2 separate regions of the Homo sapiens genome follow, and region 1 is linked to region 2. The links come from fine-mapping of genetic effects on gene expression. A gene starts in region 2. The other region holds a variant in brackets. All regions are shown on one strand. Distances are between the middles of the regions. Region 1 overlaps SDK1-AS1 (SDK1 antisense RNA 1). Region 2 holds the start of SDK1-AS1 (SDK1 antisense RNA 1).

What was found. PIP is the estimated chance that this variant, and not a neighbour inherited with it, causes the effect.
Region 1: its variant is the best candidate, but not a certain one, in a credible set for the expression of SDK1-AS1 in breast (GTEx, PIP 0.88).

The regions. Positions count from the first base shown.
Region 1 is chr7:3,258,568-3,267,056 of GRCh38, reverse strand. SDK1-AS1 (SDK1 antisense RNA 1) reads left to right here. Exons shown (of 3, transcript XR_001744897.3): 2 at 2,268-2,421. Among named protein-coding and RNA genes, the nearest start is that of SDK1, 38 kb to the left of the region's middle. The variant A/G (reference allele first, on the strand shown) is at 3,990.
Region 2 is chr7:3,347,065-3,355,553 of GRCh38, reverse strand. It overlaps SDK1-AS1 (SDK1 antisense RNA 1), which reads left to right and starts at 3,469. Exons shown (of 3, transcript XR_001744897.3): 1 at 3,469-8,489. The region is part of intron 1 of SDK1 (sidekick cell adhesion molecule 1); the gene reads right to left.

The sequences.
Region 1 (8,489 bases), 88 kb after region 2:
CACTGAGCCCAGCCCTATTTTTATTTTTTATTTATTAGTTTTTTTTTTTTTTGAGACAGGGTCTCACTGTGTTGCCCAGGCTTGAGTTCAGTGGTGAGATCATAGCTCAATGCAGCCTTGAACTCCTGAATTCAAGCAATCCTCCTGTCTCAGCCTCCCAAGTAGCTGGGACTATGGGCGTGCACCACTAATCCCAGGTCTAAGATGCTAAGACCCCCTCGATGCTTGGCTAATTTTATATTTTGTAGAGACAGAGTCTTGCTATGTTGCCCAGGCTGGAGTGGAGGGGTCCAGTCTTGGCTCACTGCAGCCTCTGCCTCCCAGGTTCAAGCAATTGTCGTGCCTCTGCCTCCTGAGTAGCTGGGATTACAAGGGTGTGCCATCACACTTGGCTAATTTTTGTATTTGTAGTAGACACAGGGTTTCACCATATTGGCCAGGCTGGTCTCGAACTCCTGACCTCAAGTGATGTTCCCACCTCCACCTCCCAAAGCATTGGGATTACAGGCATGAGCCACCACACTGAGCCCAGTTAGGATTTTAAAAGATAAATGAAATCCAACACACTTCCCACTCACACCCCCACCACCACCCCTGCTAAGTGCTAGGGATCTTGGGTTCATAAACAAATGAGCTAATATTTGCAAAGCCACTTTGCAAAATTTAGAGTGCTACTGGCGGAGCTTAGCTGTCATTATTACCATATAACTGACCCTTTTAGAGTTGTGGCTGTCTCTGTGGACCTGGTGTGACAGTTGTCAGGGACCGGGAAGAAGGTAAAAGAGCGTTAGAATAAAGTCTAAAGCTTCTTACTTTCAAATGTCAGAGGATTGTAAAGAATGACTCTTGCTGTGGCCATGTTCAATGAATTCAAAATTCTGGAGGCGGAAAAAAAGAAGTCTATTTCATGTGACTTTCTCCAAATGGCAAGTTAGTTCTGCATTTCCCTAACCTAATTAATAGGAGGCCACCTATGTCACCAGGGAGAGAGGCTCACTCTACATTACCCTATTTTCCCGCTGAGCCCCGTGGAAGTGAAAATTTTGGGAGGGAATCTTTAAATCACACTAATACATTGCCTATTTTCTTCAAACACATTTTCAAGAACACTTTGAGACCATCCCCTGGAGAGAACCACAGGCAAAAGGTATAAGGATATTATCTTCAGTTGTTTAGAGAAGAGTTTTGAGGGAGATTATCCCAACAGGGGTGTCACCTTCAAATCTTAATCCTTTTAGACCTCAACAAACAGCCTACAGGTTCCCCTTTTCATAAGTCCGAGAATGCCTCTGGCCAAAGTGGCCTAAGGACATTTCAGAAGGAACAGGCAGTCAAGAGACCAGGTCTAAGATGCCAAGACTCCACTGATGGTCCAGCTATTCCCATAGCCCTGGCTTTCAGTTTTTATCTTCGTGTCCGCTGCTCATGAACCTCTGAAATGCATCAGCCGCGGAGAATTACATGCAGAAGGCACTGTCTTCTAATAAAAAATCTGAAATTAAATCCTTGCGTACTTTGATAGCATCTTTCAAAAGCAAAATTGCCTGCTCAATTATCCAGATAGCTCTTCCTGCCTATACAGAGAAAAATGACACACAACAGTGAATACGCTTTATATTTTTAGAGGCGTGTACCATGGAATATCTGTTAGTGTAATTAATTTAATTGAGTCATACCTACCAAGAAATTATTTAATTATATTGCTAGTTGAATAGGTGATAATGATGATAGTAAACTAACATTCTTTTTTAAAAACATTCTATTTATCGCCAGGTGATAGGAAGAGATTGAGAGAGGGATGGAAATCATTACTGAGAAGGCTTGAACAACCACAATTTACTGCGAACAGATAAAAACCAAACACCTCAGCCGTATTATCACCATAATTGTCTGCAGTTTACCCATCTTGTAAAATAAACGGATCATGAAATGTGAGAGCACGTTTCAAAACATACATAGAAGGTGTTAGAGTGATTATGGGTAGGCTGCCTGACTTAATGGTGAATTGTTTTTCTTTCAGTGGGAAGTGAAAAGGTATTAATTAGTAGTGATTTTGACAAGATTGGAAGTCCACGAACTTTGGCTTAGAGAGAACTTTGCAAAGGCACCTACATGCTGCAAAGAGAGTTGTTGTTGTTGTTTTTAGCTTTTAATGGCATTTTGTTGTTTGCTAATCCCTGGTGCAGGCACACACTTGCAGATCTCAGATTTGATAAACGTTCGAGTGCCTCAAGTTTTAACACGAAGCTTTTCTCTCCTAACTCCAGGTGGCAAAGGCAAAAGCTGGACTGCATTGTGTGGCCCCAGGGAGCTGCAGACAGAGGAACTGAGTCCTGGCCACTGTGCCTGCTGTCTCTTACAAGTTTAGAGATGCTGGCATTGCATCGAAATCGGACAACACTCCCTTCCCTCCCTTCCCAGGTACTCCATTCCCAACCTTTTCCACCAACAGGTCCTTATTCTCAGAAGCCAAAAATAATTTATTGGTTTCCACTGTTCTCCTTGGCTGAATCTTCAAGTACACCAACTCCCCCCTCTTCTGGACAGACTCTCCATAATTCAGCCAGCATCTAATCAGCACCTTGCTTCTCTTCCATTCTTCCTTTCTCCAGAGTCATGATTCTTCCTTCTCAAGTCAAAGAGGAATTACAAGCAAATAGACACTATCCTTGAATGCAGTTTGGGTTACACAGAATGGGGAATGAACTCAATCTCATTTTTGCTTCTTTGTTGAAATAAGCTCAGTATCTCCCTTGCACAGAGATTGAATCGGCTTCACTAAGGCAAGCAGCATTTCCTCTTTTCTCCCAGTCAGCATCGCAGCTCTCTGCATTCCCCTCTCGCAGAGGTGACTATTCATTGTGTTCTTTCCAGGAATGTTTTCTGAGCTTCAGGAGGCCCTGAGTTACCTGGATAATTAGTGCTGTCCTTTTGCACAATGCAAAAACAAAACTATTATGAGATAATTTCTTTAGCTAAGTTGGGAATGGGGTTTAAATGCGTGGGCAAATAGATCTGGCAGTCAAATTCAGACTGTCATATTTTGTGATCCACCCTCCCACCGATCATAGCATATAAGACTCTGATGAACTTCACCAGCAACAGGGAATTCTCCCTCCACTGCAGATAAAACAATGACAATATGGAAGTGAAAAATGAATAATTCAAAAATGGAATTCTCTGTGGGGCTCCGTGCAGTGTGTGTTTCTGTGTGTGCATGTGTTTTATACAAGTCTCTGTTACTTTTGTAGTTTGGATTGGACTTCCGTCGGTCCATTAATTTTGTTACTGGATCCCACCACTTACCCAAAATTAGCCTTTGGGTTGGGTGTTTCTGCAGTATAGTCCCTTCTGTGGACACCAGAAAGATATTACAGGAAAGGGGTCCTGATCAAGACCCCCAGAGACGGTTCTTGGACCTGGTTGGGAGGCCGAGGATCACTTGAGGTCAGGAGTTCGAGACCAGCCTGACCAACATGGTGAAACCCCATCTCTACTAAAAATACAAAAATTAGCCAGGTGGGCCAGGCACGGTGGCTCACGCCTGTAATCACGCCTGTCATCACAGCACTTTGGGAGGCCGAGACAGGTGGATCACCTGAGTTCAGGAGTTCAAGACCAGGCTGGCCAACATGGTGAAACCCTGTCTATACTAAAAAAACAAACAAACAAACAAAAAAAAAAACAAAAATTAGCTAGTCATGGTGGCCTGCACCTGTAATCCCAGCTACTCAGGAGGCTGAGGCAGCAGAATCCCTTGAACCCAGGAGGCAGAGGTTGCAGTAAGCCAAGCTCTAGCCTGGGCGACAGAGCTAGACTCCATAAAAAAAAAAAAAAAAAAAAAAAAAAAAAAAAAAAAAGAAGAAGAAGAAGAAGAAAGAAAGAATTAATTCATTAATTCAGGATGAGCCCGTAAAGTGAAAGCAAATTTATTAAGAAAGTAAAGGAATAAAGAACGGCTGCTCCATAGACAGAGCAGCCCCAAGGGC[A/G]GCTGGTTGCCCATTTTTATGGTTATTTCTGGAAGATATGCTAAACAAGGGGTGGACTATTCAAGCCTCTCGTTTTTAGATCGTATAGGGGAACTTCCTGACGTTACCATGGCATTTGTAAACACTCATGATGCTGGTGGGAGAGTGTAGCAGTGAGAATGACCAGAGGTCACTCTTGTTGCCATCTTGGTTTTGGTGGGATTTGCCTGGCTTCTTTACTGCAACATATTTTATCAGCAAGGTCTTTATGTCCTGTATCTTGTGCTGACCTCCTGCCTCATCCTGTGACTTAGAATGCCTAACCATCTGGGAATGCAGCCCAGTAGGTCTCAGCCGCATTTTACCCAGTTCCTCTTCAAGATGGAGGTGCTCTGGTTCAAATGCCTCTGACAATTTCACGGATGGATTCCAGGGACCTGTGAGCAGTCTCTGGAAGTCTTTGGCTAGGTGTGGTGGCTGACCAGGAACTGTGGCCCACCTTGTAGTTCCCACACATGGGGAAGCAGACAGGTAGAGTGTAACCCACCAACCACTGCACACGCAGGAAACAGATCCCATGTCAGGACGCTTTGTAAGTGCTGCATGCTTCCAGACCAGTGGAGAGAACCCATCAGCACGTATCTGTAGCCTTTACTTTTGCAAGAACATATCGCCGCATTGTTTGGTAATTTAACATTTTTGACAAAAACAACTTGAAAGAGATGATGTTAAAAAATGCTGGCAGGGAGCACACAGGATTTTTAGGGTAGTGAAACCTCTCTGTATGATCCTACAATGTCATTAGACATTTGTCCAAACCCAGAGAAAACACACCACAACCAAGAGTGAACCCTAATGTAAACTCTGGACTCTGGGTGATGATGATGTACAGTGTAAGGTTCATCAATTTTTTCTGTAAACCAAAAATAAAATTCTAAGTCCTCCAGCCATCTAAATGGACCCCTCCTCTTGGCCAAGAGCATTCCAAAGCTAACCTGAAAAAACTAGTTCAGGCCATGTTGGAAAGAGAAAGCCAGACATGCCTCATTATCCCCTCCTCCCTTTTGGAATTGCTGATAAAACAGACTCTTTAAGTCTGACAAGAAACATTTACAATCTATTCTCTCTAAAGCCTGATATCTACAGGCTTCATTTGCAGGATAAAACATTGATCTGGGCCAGGTGCAGTGGCTCAGGCCTGTAATCCCAGCACTTTGGAAGGCCGAGGCGGGCGGATCACAAAGTCAAGAGATCGAGACCATCCTGGCCATCATGGTGAAACCCTGTCTCTACTAAAAATACAAAAATTAACTGGGCGTGCTGTCACGCACCTGTCATCCCAGCAACTTGGGAGGCTGAGGCAGGAGAATCGCTTGAACCCAGGAGGTGGAGGTTGCAGTGAGCTGAGATCGTGCCATTGCACTCCAGCCTGGCAACACAGCGAGACTCCATCTCAAAAAACAAAACAAAACAAAACAAAACCTTGGTCTCCACAACCCTTTATCATAACCCAGACATTCCTTTCTACGGATAATAACTCTTTCAACCAATTGCCAATCAGAAAAATTTTAAATCTACCTATGACCTGGACGCCCCTGTTTCCAAGTTGTCTCACCTTCGCATCCTGAACCATTGCATATCTTGCCTGTATTGACTGATGTCTCATGTCTGCCTATGATGTATAAACCAATTGTACCCTGACCAGGTTGAGCACATGTCATCAGGACCTCCTGAGGCTGGGTCATGGGTATGTCCTTAACCTGGGCAAAATAAACTTTCTAAATTGATTGAGACTTGTCTCAGAGACTCTTGGTTTCCATTACAAATGTGCCACGATGGCAGGAATGTTGATAGCGTGGGAGGCTGTGTGTGTGTTGGAGAGGCAGACAGTATATGGGAATTCTCTGTACCTTCTGCTCAATTTTGCTGTAAACCTAAAACCACCCTAAAAAATAAAGTCTGTTAAAAAAGCAAACACATCAACAAAACTACAGTGGGTCATCCCACCACAAATCTTTGATGAAATGAGTTCAACTTAACCTTTTTTTTTATTAGCCATGCCATAAAATTTAAGTGTATTTTTGTTCTATTTAATGAAAAAAAAAAAGATGCTGGCAGTGAATGAGGGACAGGAATGAAGGGCACGTATAACAGGTAAACCTTAGACGCTTGTCTAAAAATAATACCTACATCTCCCTTTTCAGCTTTAATTATTTTAACACCCCTTGTGAGCTGTCTGAGAGCTGAGATGTGAGCATTCTCAGGAGCCTCTCTGCAGCCCCTGACACTTGGTTTTTTCTTTATTTAGAGCCGACATCAGGAGAGGAAGAGAAATGGGAAACTGAGGGCCAGGAGGGAATTTGGGAACATTTTCAAATCCACCTACAGCTGTCAGCAGGACGCCGGCTCCCTAAACAGCTGTGGGTACAAAGGATCCTGAAATCCACTCCAAAAACTTAGATCTCCCTCCCAGCTGCTTTGCAGGGCTCGGGGAGTTAATGATGAAGTTCTTCCTTATGTCGAGCGCAGAGCTCCAGCCTTCTGATTGGATGAGTGCTGAAGATTAGAAAACGGCTTCTTCGGAGGAACTCCAGAGACATACTGCTGAGAAAATGAAGTCAGCCATTCACGAGAATATACCGTATGATTTGGCGTGATTCTGTAGGGTTTCTGCACTTTAATCCCTTTGTGATCGCCGTAAATATGTTACAGGAAAGGGGTCCAGATCCAGACCCCAAGAGAGGGTTCTCGGATCTCGCGCAAGAAAGAATTCAGGGCTAGTCCGTAGTGCAAAGTGAAAGCAAGTTTATTAAGAAAGTAAAGGAATAAAGAACGGCTGCTCCATAGACGGAGCAGCCCCGAGGGCTGCTGGTTGCCCATTTTTATGGTTATTTCTGGATGATATTCTAAACAAGGGGTGGATTATTCATGCCTCCCCCTTTTAGACCATACAGGGCAGCATCCTGACGTTGCCATGGCATTTGTAAACTGTCCCGGTGCTGGTGGGAGTGTAGCAGTGAGGACGGCCAGAGGTCACTCTCGTGGCCACTTTGGTTTTGGTGGGTTTTGGCCGGCTCCGTCACTGCAAGCTGCTTTATCAGCAAGGTATTTATGGCCCATATTTTGTGCTGACCTCCTATCTCATCCTGTGACTTAGAATGCCTTAACCATCTAGGAATGCAGCCCAGTTGGTCTCAGCCTCATTTTACCCAGCTCCTATTTAAGATGGAGTTGCTTTCATTCACACACGTCTGACAATTCCTTCTTGCAAAAGACAAAACGCAGGCCATGCATGCTGGCTCATGCCTGTAATCCCAGCACTTTAGGAGGTTAAGAAGGGAGGGAGGTTTAAGGTCAGGAGATCCAGACAAGTCTGGGAAACACAACGTGAAAGGAAAATAAATCTTGGGGCCCCCAAATCACTAAGCTAAAGGAAAAAGTCAAGCTGGGAACTGCTTAGGGCAAACCTGCCTCCCATTCGACTCAATGTCATTCCTCTGTTCACTGAGATGAATGCGTATCTGAATGCCTCCTTTGGAGAGGCTCATCTGAAACTCAGTAGAATACAACCAATTGTACCTGGAAGCCCCCTCCCTACTTTGAGTCATCTGGCCTTTTCTGGACTGAACCAATGTTCATCCTACATTTGTTGATTGATGTCTCACATCTCCCTAAAATGTATAAAACCAAGCTGTGGTCTGACCACCTTGGGCACATGTTACCAGGACCTCCTGAGGCCGTGTCATGGGCTCGCATCCTTAACTTTGGCAAAACAAACTTCCTAAATGGACTGAGACCTGTCTCAGACTTTTGGGTTTCACAATAGTGAGACCCCATCTCTGCAAAAAAATAAAAGAGATTAGCTAGGTGTCACGGCACACGCCTGTAGACCCAGCTACCTGGGAGGCTGAGGCCGGAGGGTCACTTGAGCCCAGGAGTTCAAAGCTGCAGTGAGCTGTGATTGCACCACTGCACTGCAGCCTGGGCAAGACAGAGCAAGACTGTCTCAAAACAAAACAAAAAAACCATACAATCAATGGTGGTAGATATCACAATAGTGTTTTTTCTTTGCTGGGGCTGCCACTGAGAGGAAATTTCTGGGATGCTAGATTCTATACCCTTCTCTGGAGGAATTCACTCTGTAAAGATTCATCATGCTGTATCCTTGAGAGGTGGGAATTCGCCATATGTGGGTTACATCTCATTAAGTTATGCCTCTAGATGATCTTGATCTCCTTCTTTATCTAGCTCATATACAATGACAAATGTGGAACATACAGAAACATATAGGGAATGGTGGGTTAAATGCTGCGTACTCACAATTCGACTTTTACAAGCCTTAACATTTTGCTGTTTCCTCCAAATTTTTTCTTGTCTTTTAAAGAAATACAACATCACAGGTAGTAATCGAAAGCCTGGATGTCTCTGTTTCTGATCACACTGTTTGCTCTCCCTCTCCAGAGGTAACCATCATCTTGCGTTTAGTATTTTTCATTTTCATTTATGTTTTTATACCTTCCC
Region 2 (8,489 bases):
TGCAAAGAACGGAGAAGAAATCTAACTGGAAACACCACATAAGTGTTAAGATTTAAATTTACAAATGGCAGCCAGGCCCAGTGGCTCAGGCCTGTAATTGCAAGCAACATGGGAGGCTGAGGCAGCAGGAAGACTGCTTGAGCACAGGAGTTGGAGGCCATGGCGAGCTACGATCGCACCATTGCACTCCACCCCAGGCAACAAAGCAAGACCCCATCTCTAAATAAATAAATTTGCAAATCGTTAATGGGACATTTTCACAATTTTCTTCAGTGGATAGCTACATTTTAAAAGTAACTCCATAATCTACGTGAATGACGCATTTATATTTTAAGAACTTTAGGTCTAGTTTCAGAGAATATTCACAATTTTTAGATATAAGATACTCTGAAATCTTCAATTACTTTAACAGGAAAACACCTTGCTGCAAATTTTAATAAGATGTGTCAATGGAATTAACAAATAACATGACTAAGAAAAGACTAGATTTGGCCAGATATTTCCCACCACAATTTAATCAGAGAAAATGAGAAAATAAACTGTAGCTTAATTATAATCATATAATTAGAGCTTCCCCACAGACACAAGAAAGTAAACCACTTTCACATGTAGTGAGTGTTGGCTGGTGGATTATTTTAAGCATCTATTGTTACACAGCAGTGAGGCCTCTTTAACGTGATCAAGTACGTACACTTTAAGTCCAATCGTTTCCTTGGTTAGCTGCTTCATTCTGTTTTCATTTTGAGATATTCAAGCATAATCTAGTCAATAATATTTTGCCCTTATCCGTCAGGATGTATTTGTAATAAGGGCAGGGGTTAACATATTAGCTAGCAGGGCTATTTAAATAATCTACCCAAGACCTATAAAGTCAATATTAATTCCCAATGAAACACAATTAACTTCTGTGATTTAATAAATGGGTAGCTTTGATACACATGAAAAAAATGTAGACTGATTACATTTGACAATTTTCTTTCAGGAGCTATTAATACACTGACACCACAAAATATTCTTACAATTGAAGTGTTAAGACTGTTAACTTTAACTTTTATTATGTTACCTATACTTCTTTCACGGAAAACTCTCGAATAATCATTGGAACCAATGAAAAACTATTTCAAAAAACAACTTTTTCCTTATATTCAACTTTCCAGACATAAATGTAAGGCATGAAACAGTCACATTGGTTTCTAATAGGTTTATATCCCTGTTTTTTTTTTCCGTTTGACTTAATAATCTGAATGCTGGTTAAATGAAAAATGGTCAGGCCAGGCGCTGTAATCCCAGCACTTTGGGAGGCCAAGGCAGGCAGATCATGAGGTCAGGAGATCAAGACCATCCTAGCTAACACAGTGAAACCCCATCACTACTAAAAATACAAAAAATTAGCCGGGTGTGGTGGCGGGTGCCTGCAGTCCCAGCTACTTGGGAGGCTGAGGCTGAGGCAAAAGAATGGTGTGAACCCAGGAGGCGGAGCTTGCAGCGAGCCGAGATCTCGCCACTGCACTCCAGCCTGGGCAACAGAGCGAGAGTCTGTCCCAAAAAAAAAAAAAAAGAAAAGAAAAATGGTCTGAAATGTGGCTATGGAGCCCGGTTGCAACATGAAATGTGTTCCCTGAGCAAGTCAGTTACGTAACTTTCACCTCCAACCTCATGGATGAGGAGGACGTGAAGACGTACAGAAAGCATCTGCATGGAAACTGACATGCAGGACACGCTCAAACATGGGAGGCTGCTTTTTCTAGTGATCTTCTAGATGAAATCTACAGTTAATGTTCCTTCACCAGCAAAAGGAAGCATGCTCCCTTTAACCATGAACTGTATCATCCTTGTATGTTAATCGAGTCATCAATAGTTTCTATTCATGACAGGGGAAATATCATCCCTTGTAATAGGTCTGGCTTTGACGGGCAGCTCCACTAACCATTCAGAAATAGACTGGAATGGTAAGTTACAGTTACAGAACTGTTACAGAAACTACACACAGGGCACTACTAAAAAGAGCTACACATTACTTTTCCAATTTTACAAAGAGCATAAACAGAGAACATATGCTATTCTAATAATTCCCAGGAGTGGTATAAATGTAACTCAGCTCATTTGAATTTTTTTTAGAAATTATGGTTACTTCAAAAATTGGGAGTCATGTGAGTTCCTATGTTCAGTATATTTTATAAACCCAAACGTACACTAAGGTTATAGCAACTTTTATTCCAAATGCCATCAATTTTCAAAATAACCCCCAAGATGAAAGATACTCATCAAAGTTTGTAAGTGGCTATTCAGAATTAAGTCAAGCACTTTAAGAAAAGGATAGTAAAAAGGGATATAATCTACTTAATGGTTCTTGGATCTTTCCATGCCATTACTTACACCACTTACCTATCTATCCTCTACTCAGAAAAGGGAACAATGATAACAGGAAACAAAATAGAAATAGAATTGCTGCAGGGTGCAAAAAAAGCTAAATTGGGATAATATAGAAAAAGTACTTTAAAAGAACTAATGACACGGTGGGATATGATCACCAGAAAACATTTCACATACCCTTTATGTCTTGTTTTCCCTCAAGACAGACCCTAACTACAACAAAGTATTCCCATGTAGAGCTTGTTCCTGCATCCATGATGTGACAAATTATTTCTTCAACCTGGTGCCTGTTCCGATTTAGATTCCCACTCTTCGGAAAATACAGGACAGAACTCATTTCCTCCCCAGACACTGTGAATACCTCAATTTTTTCATGCTCCTCAGAACTTTGTGAAAAGAGAAGAGAAAAAAAAAGGGTTTCCCTAGGTCACCAACACAGTAATAATCTGAAAAAAAAAGAAAAATCTCTTCTCTTTTTCCTTCAGGAATGGAAATGGGAAGGAATGGTAAAACCCCAAACAGTGTATCTGTGACAGCCCATGAGTGGCTCTGTTATTCAACATGGAAACAGAAATATCTACTTCAGCTTGTCTGAGCCTCAAATTTCCTTAGGTGTCTGGCCAAAGAACACGTAACTACAGGCACAGCTGGTCTATCAGCCTCTAAATGAATAAAAACAGGAGCCACAGCCTGTGAACTAAGCTCTGGATGTAAATCTCGTGTTTTCAGTAAATCCACAGATCTCTCGTCGTGGCACACCCTCCCTGCTACCAGCAGGAATGATCTCTTCCCCCATTTAGCTCAAACAATTACTTTCCTAATCCCACATACATGATCACTAGCCTCCTAAGAAGAATTCACAAAAATATTGGGGATCTCTGGAACGTGTATCAAGTATTTGGACATCAAAAAAAAAACCTCCCAAATCCTGACAATTTTTACATTTAGTAGGGTCAGAAGTACAGTGATTTTGTATTTAAGTGACAGATTTTTCCATTTTGTAAAACTTTTTAAATGAAACTTTTATAAATATATATTTATATATTTATAAAATTATATATTATACATTATAAGAAATATACTTCTTAATTTATTGACATACAAGGATTTTCCTGTTATCTTTTGGTTGATTCCTTCTATAATTCCGTAAGAAAAATACTCTACATGATTTCAATCATTTGAAATTTATCAATACTTGCTTTATATTCCTATATGTAATCAATGTCAGATGCTCCATGTGCTTGAAAAGAATGGATTATACAGGAACTGTAACATTCTATGAATGTCCATGAGGTCAGATTTGTTCATTGATCATGTTCTTTAAGTCTTCCATATCCTAAGATTTCTGTCTGCAAGTTGTACTATTCAGAAAGGTATGTTAACTTCCCACTAGGATTGTGCATTCAGCTATTTTTCTTGTTTCTGTATATTTTTGCTTTATATAATATGTACCTATATCTGAACTGAACCTTTTACCACTGTGCAGTGATCCTCTTCATCTCTAATGCCTTTTGCCTTGATTTCTATGTTGTCTGATATCAACATGTTATACCAGCTTTATTTTGCTTAAAGTGAGCCTGAAATAAAATTTTCCATTATTTTGCCTTCTGTATCTTTGTTTTTAGATATGCTTCTTGTAAACCTAGTATCTCAGATGTTTTTAATCCAATCTGACGTGTCTTTTAGCAGAATCCTCTAGTCTATTTACATTTATTGTAATTACTGACACTTGAATTTATAGCTATCATGTTATTGTGTGCTTTCTGTTTTTCCTGCCTCCTCTATACTGTCTTCATAGTAGACAGTGGTGTTAAGGTCCATTTTCTAATTTTTCTCCTTGTGTTGAGTAATATCAATAAATTGTTAGGTAAAATGATTCACCAATTTTTATTATTTATATGTCTCAATATAACTTTCCTAAATTCTCATGCTTCTAGTTGAAAGCAAAACATAGGACATAAAATCTTTATGAAATTACAATACAACTACCATCTGGCCTTTAAGATTAACCAATCTATGGAAGTACAAGGCTGCCCATTAAAAATGACAACAGTAGGCTCTCAGAACTGCTGCAGCTTAGTCAGTAACCAAGCTGTTTTCAAATTTTTTATTCTTCTAGTTTTACCCAGTGAAACTAAGATATATTATCACAACATAGATATCTATTTATGTATGTAGTATCAGATATTATTGATTCTTGGGGCAACCAGATGTCACTAATTGTGTTTACCCTACCATAATTCTCCTTTAATACCCAGCTCAAAATATAAACCAGTTAAAGCCAAATTCTTCAGAAGCAAAACGGTGTCATTCTACTTTTAATGGGGGGAAAAAACTATTTTAACAGTCCTACTAATTTTTTTCAGTGTCACACAAACTATCATACTGCAAGATAAATCGTGAGAAGTAAACAAGCCAGTACAAAGCCTAGCATCTTAACACAGTAAATATGACATTGGTGACTGTAGAAGGAAAAGATGAGACATCACCAGGAAAAGGTTTTCCCAAACACCTCACTGACTGGTGGTTCAAGGTAAGACTGTTAGTCTTGTGGCCCAAAGGCTCTATCATGGTCTAGAGTTGATTAGGAAAAATGCCTCAGGGCAAAGTTAAAGACAATCAATTATAAAAAGCAAAATGACATACTATCAGTATTATTAATTTACAACAAAATAACCACCAAGAAGACTGAATACTGAACTCTTCTGGGCAATGTAATCTGTCCCACTACAACTACACTGGGGAGCAGATAATAATCAGTTATGTGCTGAGTAAATTTGGAATCACAACAAAGGGACTCACTTGCTTCACAAGTTCATGGCATCACACCACATCCATTTCCACTGTGGGAATATGCCTGCCTTAGGATGCTGTCCCCAAATAAATAACGCCCACACAGACACTGATAAACTTTGTTTTTTTCCACACTCATTGTTAAGTGACAACTTCTTCCTCTGTGGCACATCCATCCTATGTTTTCTGATAGACTGAGTGTCTCCCACTCTCTCCTTCTGTGATCCATTATATACTGATAGACTTAAAATGGCTTACCTCTCCCTAAGCTAAACTTACTGTTAGTAGGTACCTTACCCACCCATCACCAATAGCATGACCTTTTGTTATTGGGCTACATTAAAAAGCAGGCATAAATGTGAGAGGCACAAAGTCCCCAAACTTCATCCTCTACCTGCTACTTCATCAAGAGTCCAGCACTGCCCAAGGAGTAAACCTTCTGTATCTACCAATCCAGGATGTGGTCTTAAGATACATGTACTCTTAGGCCGGGCACGGTGGCTCATGCCTGTAATCCCAGCACTTTGGGAGGCCGAGGCGGGCAGATAATGAGGTCAGGAGATCGAGACCATCCTGGCTAACACGGTGAAACCCCGTCTCTACTAAAAATACAAAAAAAAATTAACCAGGCGTGGTGGCAGGTGCCTGTAGGCCCAGCCACTCGGGAGGCTGAGGCAGGAGAAGGGCGTGAACCCGGGAGGTGGAGCTTGCAGTGAGCCGAGATCTTACCACTGCACTGCAGCCTGGGCGACCGAGCCAGACTACGTCTCAAAAAAAAATAAAAGATACATGTACTCTGGCCCAAAAAGGCAGGTATGACTTCCACAGTTTCCTTGCCCATATCCTTCGCTTCTTAGTCCTCTGCCCTCACAGGGCTGGTCCCCGCAGAACACATGCCTAGCCAGCTCCTTCATGGACACTGTGTTCAGTCACTCAGGTCCAATAGCCAAGCACAGTTCCATCCAACAGTAACCCCCTCCCTCCCCAGCCCCATTCCCCTTCCAGTTGGAGGAGCAGGCTTCTTTTTCAGATGAGTAACTCCAAGAATGACGTTCTCTTTAAGTGATTATGAACCACAGTCTAATAAGGGTGAGACCCTGCTCTTCCCACAAAACCACAGCCCTCATAAAGTCAAAGGTATACATCTAAATAGGCTGTTGTGTGTTTGTTTTGTTGTGTTTTTTTTGTTGTTTTTTTTTAAACTGCAACCACAGGGCAGCTGAAGGCAATGGGGGACTGAGGAAGGAGGCAGCAGAAGTAGGAGAGGAGCAAGAATCCAGAAGGGAAATGAGAACGACAAAACTGAAGTGCACTTCAACATCCTGCAGCCAAAGGGGTAAAAAGGAGAAAGAAGCGCAGACCAGTCACATAAATGCCACAGTGACATGCACAAAAACGTGAGGGGCACACTCCAGGGACAGAGTCTGACAACATGACAAGCTACATGGCATCAAACTCTTTCATGTGACAGGCAGCTTTTCACATGTGCATCTTAAGACTGGAACTTGCTATAGATAAACCTTAAGTAGTTAATAAAAGCAAAAGTCATCCTCTATTCACTGTTTGCTGCCATGTTCCAGGCATAGTACTTGGCACTTTTTATTTTATTTCACTTGATCAGCTCAGAAAGTCCTCCAAATGAGTATTTAAAAAAAATAACAGCTCACTTTTTGAAAAACAATTTCAACTTTTATTTCAGATTTGGGGGTACATACACAGGTTACATGGGGATACTAAATGATGCTGAGGTTTGGGGTGCAGACGAGCCCATAGCCCAGGTAGTGGGCATAGTACCCAACAGGTAGGTTTTCACCGCCCTGCGTCTTCCTCCCTCCCGCTCTAGTAGTCTCAAGTGTCTACTGTTCCCATCTTTATGTCCATATGCACTCGATGTTTAGTTCTCCCTTACGAGAACATGTTGTTTTCGGTTTTCTGCTCCTGTGTTAATTCACTAACAACCTCCAGCTGCACCCACCTTGCTACAAATGACATGATTTTGTTCCTTTTTATGGCTGCATAGTAGTCCATGATGTATATGAATGGCTCACATTTACTGCACACTTACCTTCGTAACAACTGTGAGTCAGGTACTAGCATTATTCCAGCTTACAGTGGAAAAAGCTGAGTCAGAGAGGGTAATAAAATTGCCTCGGATCACACAGTTATCAAGTAGTGAAGCCAAGAATCAAACCCAAGCAGTAAGCCTGGGCTATGCATTAAAACCTAAGTGCATCATCATTGAGCTTTGCTGTCTGTGATGTAAACATCGTCCCCACTTTAGAGGTGAGAGACATTTAGGGAGGTAAACACACCAAGGCCTCACAGAAGTGCAGGGCTGAGCTAGGACCTGAATCCACCTCATCCTCTGTTATAATACTCCTTCTCTCATTGTGGAATTATACATATTTAAGTACTTAGGAAGCAAAATACTTACACTTAAAGTGAACCTCCACTTATTTTCAGAGACTTACTACACAAAAGGAAAAAAAAAAAAACATATTTAATGTGTTTGTAACTGGCTCGATACTAAGCCACGCTCTAGTGCATAAATTATTCCCTGAGAATTAATAAAGTACTTAAGAAACTTGTATTAACTCTTTCAGGCCACAGGGGTAGCATTCAGTGAACTGAATTCTTAATTTACTAAAATGGTACCCAGAAGGTTCAGAAGAACATAACTTCCTCTGAGGGCATGGGGAGAAAAAACTTGTAAAGCCACTTAGGAATATAAACTAAATTCAGAACAAAATTAAAAACCATGCCACAGGGAAATATTGTTCTAGTGGATTAGCCTCTGGCCCTAAAAATTGGTCAGAAATGAAACAGGGAGGTTGAAAATATCTAGGAACAGAAAATCACCTTCAACGGCACATTTGAGCCCAATGGCTAGGGTTCTGGAGCCTTGACTGTAGTAATCAGAGAATAGGTGAAAAGTTATTTTGTTCCAACTTCATCAGGTACTTCTGGGAAAGGCATAGTAAGACCAACAGCTTTATGACATCACCAGATCTCCAACTGGTATCCAACATATCATATATACACTAATAATGCAAAATTAGACTCTTTCACCTATAAAAATACTGCTCCATATACAAAAGAGTATAAGAAGATATGTGCCAAGTGTTGTCAGAGTACTACAAAATTGCTAAAAGAATATAAAAAAAAATCTGGTTTGTGCACCTGGAGAAGAGTTCTTGGAAGAAGTGGCATCAAGTACAACTCCACTTAACCGGCTAACGTCTGGATGCAAGAGGCAGTGAAAGCAAGCAGAGGGAATGGCATGGGCAACCAACAGAAGCACGAAGATGCAAAGTCTTTCAGGG